2 separate regions of the Homo sapiens genome follow, and region 2 is linked to region 1. Evidence: fine-mapped expression QTL. Tissue or cell type: whole blood. Region 1 holds a variant in brackets; the other region holds the start of a gene. All regions are shown on one strand. Distances are from middle to middle.

Region 1 (2,682 bases):
TTGCCTCTTTTATCTATCCTCCCTTTTTTCTTTCTTCCTCTCTCCCCCAATGTCCACTCTTTCCCCTTCAAATATTGAGATCCCCAGACTGTCTTCAGAAAAGCGCACAGACCACAGATTTTTCCTGTGTTTCTGTATTCTTTTTCCAAGGTGTGTCCTTAACCTTGACAAATAAACCTCTTAAAATGATTGAGACTCACCTTGGTCATTTTCTTTGAGTTACAATATATTGAATTACACTGATTAATTTTTAAAAATTAAACCAACATTTGGCTGGGCACAGTGGCTCATGCCTGTAATCCCAGCACTTTGGGAGGCTGAGGCGGGCAGATCACGAGGTCAGGAGATCAAGACCATCCTGGCTAACACGGTGAAACTGTCTCTACTAAAAATACAAAAAATTAGCCGGGCATGGTGGTGGCCGCCTGTATTCCCAGCTACTCGGGAGGCTGAGGCAGGAGAATGGCGTGAATCCAGGAAGCGGAGCTTGCAGTGAGCTGAGATCTCGCCACTGCACTCCAGCCTGAGCGACAGAGCAAGACTCTGTCTCAAAAAAAAAAAAAAAAAAATTAAACCAACATTGAATTCCTAGGGTAAACTCCACTTAGTCATGATGTATGTTTTTCTATACTGTTAGATCCAATTTGCTGCAACTGTTTTAAGGATTTTTGTATCTGTACCATGGTGGATATTGGTTTGTAGTTTTCTTGTAATGTCATTATCTGATTTTCATATTATATTCCTATTTGGTAGCACATTCTGGGCAATAAGACATGTCTCAATAAATGTAAAAGGATGCAAATTATACAAAGTATGTTTTCTGACCAAAATGGCTTAAATTAGAAATCAGCAACAGAAGCTGGGCATGGTGGCTCACACCTGTAATCCTGGCACTTAGGGAGGCCAAGGCAGGCAGATTGCTTGAGCCCAGGAGTTTGACGACAGGTATGCACCACTGTGCTTGGCTGATTTTTGTATTTTTTGTAGAGGTAGGGCTGAGTTTTTAAAATTAGCTGGGAATGGTAGTGCACACCTGTAGTCTTAACTACTCGGGAGGCTGAGGTGGGAGAATCACTTGAGCCCTGGAAGCTGAGATTTCAGTGAGCCAAAATCACACTGCTGCACTCTAGCCTCAGTGACAAGAGTGAGACCCTGTCCCAAAACAAACAAACAATAACAGAAATATATCCGGACAGTTCCCAAATATTTGGAATCTGAAGAACACATTTCTAAATAAACCATAAATCAAAGAAATTAGAAGGGAAAATAAAAAGTATTTTGAACCAAATGAAAATAAAGACAACATATCAAAATTTAT[GA/G]GATAAAATGTATGGGATAAAACTGAAGTTGGGCCAGGAGTGGTGGCTCACACCTGTAATCCCAGCACTTTGGGAGGCCTAGGCAGGCGGATCACTTGAACCCAGGGGTTCGAGACCAGCCTGGCCAACATGGTAAAACCCCATTTCTACTAAAAATGTAAAAAAAAAAAAATTCTTTTTAAAGAAGAAGAAAAAGCCTGAAGCAGTACTTAGAAATTTATAGCACTGAATGCCTATAGTAGAAAAGAAGAAAAATCTATAACCAATGTCCTCAGCTTCCACCTTAACAAACTAGAAAAGAGGAGATTATACTCAAAATAAGCAGAATAAAGGAAATAATAGATTAAAGCAGAAATCAATTAAGTAGATAACAATAAAGACACCCAGTGAAACCAAGGTTGGTTCTTTGAGAAGATCAGTTGCAATTGTATTAGTCAGGATTCTCCAGGGAAACAGAACCATTAGGATATATGTAAATATGTAAGAGATTTATCACGGGAATTGGCTTGCACAATTATGGAGGTCAAGAATTCCCATGATATGCCATCTGTAAGCTGGAGAATCAGGAAAGCTAGGGGTGTTACTCAATCAGAGTCCAAGGGCATGAGAACTAGGGCAGCCAGTGGCAGAGCTCCCAGTCTGAGGCCAAAGGCCTGAGAACCAGGGCAGGAAATGGTGTCATCCCAGAGTCCAAAGGCCTGAGAACCAGGACCTCCAGTGTCCTCAGGTGAGTGTCAAGGGCATAAGATTGATGTCCCAGCTCAAGAAGACAGAGAATGTGCCCTTTCCTCACCTTTTTGTTCTATTGAGCCCTCAGTGATTGGATGATGCCTGCACATTGATGAGGACAGATCTTCTTTCCTCAGTACAGCAATTCAAATGCAAGCTCTTCTAGAGACAGCCTCACAGACACACCCAGAAATAATGTCTACCAGCTCTCTAACCTAGGCCAGTTGACATACAACATCAACCGTCACAGGCCAGACATTAGGGCTCATGTCCCTAATCCCAGCACTTTGGGAAGCTGAGGCAGGAGGTTCATTTGAGCCCAGCCTGGCCAACATAGCAAAACACCATCCCAGGCCAGGCGAGGTGGCTCACGCCTGTAATCCCAGCACTTTGGGGGACTGGGGTGGGCAGATCACTTGAAATCAGAAGTTCCAGACCAACCTGGCCAATACAGTGAAACCCCGTCTCTACTAAAACAAAATACAAAAATTAGCCAGGAGTGGTGGCATGCACCTGTAGTCCCAGCCACTTGGGAGGCAGAGGCTGGGGAATTGCTTGAACCCAGGAGGTGGAGGTTGCAGTGAGTCGAGATCATGCCACTGCACTCCAGCCTGGGCAACAGAGCAAGACTCCA
Region 2 (2,682 bases), 36 kb after region 1:
CACCATTACTTCTCCTAAAGTCACGACATAATATCACCTACAGCAGAAATGAGGACTTCAGTGGAATTGACATCTCCTTCCATCAAGCGCATTTGCAGTCCATCTTTAGCAGGACCTCTCTCTAATGGCTAAGGCTAGGCAGAAGAATTTGAAGACAGTCTGGTTTCCATTTTCCTAATGCAGCCTGGCCCAAGAGCCAGGACTCCCATAAGACTAGTCTACTGTGGGAGTCAGGGTCTTTTCCACGTGTGGAGGCTAGTGTTTGATGCTGGACGGCCTGGAGTAAAGGGCGAAGGGGAGAAGGTAACCAACCAGGCTGGCCTCGGGATTCGCAGAGGAGGGCTGGGGCTTTGACTTCTGCAGGGAGGTGAGCAGTGTGGCCAAGGGCTACTCAAGGAACGCCTCTGCGAGAATTCAGACTGTGGTTGAGCGCACAAAGCAAGAGTGTGCGAAGAAAAGTTAACGCCTCTCCCAGCTGACCCCAAAATCTGCTAATCTGGGCCTGACGGAAAAAATTCGGAGAAGAACCACCTCGGCCGAGTTACGTGAAAAGGCTGGGTACGAACTACTCTGGCTCTACTTGGGGCGCCGGCTCAGAGCGATGGGCAGGACGTCCGCGAGGAAGAAAGAGTGACGATGATTTTTCAAGGAGTCTGAACCAGCTCACCCAGCAAACCCTCCTCCCATCGAGCACCCAGCGTACAATCATCGAAGGGCCGAGGGTCCTGCCCTCAGTCTCGATGGCGGCCGGGGCGCGCCCCGGCCACGGCGCACGCGCCGGCCTCAGCGCTCCCTCCTCCATGCCCTCGGCGCACGGCGCCGCCCACTCACCCAGCTGCACCTCTCCGTGCGTCCCCAAGCTCACCCGCTCTGAGGCTGCCCCCGCTAGTCTAGCTGCCGAGCCCGGAAGTGGATGCAGCCGCTCGGCGGAGAGGACGAGGGGGAGGGGGAAGTGCTTCCGGGGAAACGGGCCGGGGTTGGTGTTTGTAAACTTGCCTCGGTCCCGGTGGGGGCAGCCGCGGCGGTGGGGTTGGCAGGGTGTGCTGGGGCCTGGAGGAGGCGCCGCGCGGCCAGGGAGCCAGCGGGAGGCCGCGCCTGGCAGGTAGGAGCAAGCCCCAAAGACCGCAGCGTCGTCCGTACAGACGGCAGCGCTTCAGTAGCTCGCAAGCCGTGGGGTGCCGCGCGGGAAGGGGGAGGGGAGGGGAGGAGGGGCGCGTGGCGAAGGGAGGGGGATCTCCGGGGGAGGGAGGGGAAAGGCCGTGCGCGCACACCGCCCCCTGCCCGCGCGTCCCGCCGCGTCCCCGGCCCGGGAGAGGGCTCTCGGAGGGGACGCGGGCGCGAGCACGCATCTCGCGCGCTTCTCGGCACTCTCCGGCTCTGCTCCCGGTTGGTGCAGCGGGTGCAGAGGCTGGCTGGCCGGAGCGAGGCGGGCGACACGCCGCGCCGGGCTTCGCCTGCCTGTCCTCCACCTCCGCAGCAAGTTTCCCTACCTTCGGGCGGACGGGGAGAACGCACACGTGTGGGCACTGCCAGTCCCGTTTCTGCCCGCCACCGAAGCACCCAGCGATGGCCCTTGAGCTTTCCTCCACCCTAGTCTTGCCGCCTCTGTAAAGTGCGAGCTTTTCGGGCCGGCCCACTGGGCACAAAAGCCCCAAAGGGTCTCCGCCCCCTTCTTCCATTCCTGAGATGGCAAATCCAAGCAACTTTCCTTTTGGCAGAGTTCCTCCATAGGAGGCCCCAATTACTTTTGCTCCTGTTGGCTTCCACTCCTTGCCCAGGAGACCAGTTCCTCCTATTGACCTAGAAAGAAAACTCTTCTTGACTCATGTCCTCGTTCTGAGCTTCACAGAGAGCGCCCAGCAAAAAAAAAATTCATATCGCACGTTGTAATGGCCTGAAGATGTTGCATTTAGCAGCCCCCCTCTTCCTTTCTGGTTTCAGGTTTCTGAAACAGATCGTGAGCTTCATCAAGAGAATTCAACTGGAAAACCAAGACTGGTAGACTCTCTTTTTCTTCAGACAATAGGCAGGAGCCAGGCAGAGTCCAGGGATTCTTGGAACACCTATCTTTTCTTCGGAGGACACTAAGTTCTATTTGAAGACAAAGTTCAATATGGCAACAGGACTGATGGGACACGAAGGAGTCGCTACCGTGATTTGGTGACAGTTCTTCAAAACGACAGTGTCTCAAGGAAAGGTGGACCTAGGAACTCCTGAACTTTTGGGTTGCCTTAAGTGAGAAATCAGCATGGCTCAGGTAAAAAGCTCTAGAGTCCTCCTCCAAGATAACTGGGAAGCCTGTTTGCAGTTTCACTCTTGAATGCTGCCTTAGTCAACATATTGACCAACCCCAGTGATCCAAGCTCTGTATTAAGCACCAGGGGGAGATCTAGAGGAAGGAAAGGAGACAGGCCACAGCCCCTGCCTTCAGGGAGCTTCCAGTCAAATGAAGGAGGTAGGCTATACTGCATCACAGGCACTGATGGGACATTTGCAAAGCAACGTGTACTCAGTTTACATTTGGTACATTAAGTGCTGAGGGGTGTAAGGGAGTGAATAGTACGGTGAATGCTTCTTTTGTTTTTTTCCAACAGGAATTTATTGAGTTCCTGTTGCATGCAAGGCATTGTGCTGGGAATACAAAGATGAATACGATTGTCCTTGTCCCCAGTGAGCTTCCAG

The links. PIP is the estimated chance that this variant, and not a neighbour inherited with it, causes the effect.
Region 2: it holds the start of CSAD, and the variant in region 1 is fine-mapped to the expression of CSAD in whole blood (TOPMed, PIP above 0.99).

The regions. Positions count from the first base shown.
Region 1 is chr12:53,143,656-53,146,337 of GRCh38, forward strand. No RefSeq gene overlaps it. Among named protein-coding and RNA genes, the nearest start is that of ZNF740, 36 kb to the right of the region's middle. The variant GA/G (reference allele first, on the strand shown) is at 1,319.
Region 2 is chr12:53,179,736-53,182,417 of GRCh38, forward strand. It overlaps CSAD (cysteine sulfinic acid decarboxylase), which reads right to left and starts at 1,190. Exons shown (of 17, transcript NM_001244705.2): 1 at 997-1,190. It overlaps ZNF740 (zinc finger protein 740), which reads left to right and starts at 987. Exons shown (of 7, transcript NM_001004304.4): 1 at 987-1,102; 2 at 1,942-2,257. The coding sequence starts at 2,249. RefSeq lists an enhancer at 456-1,014 and silencers at 677-766, 1,057-1,356, 1,710-2,004.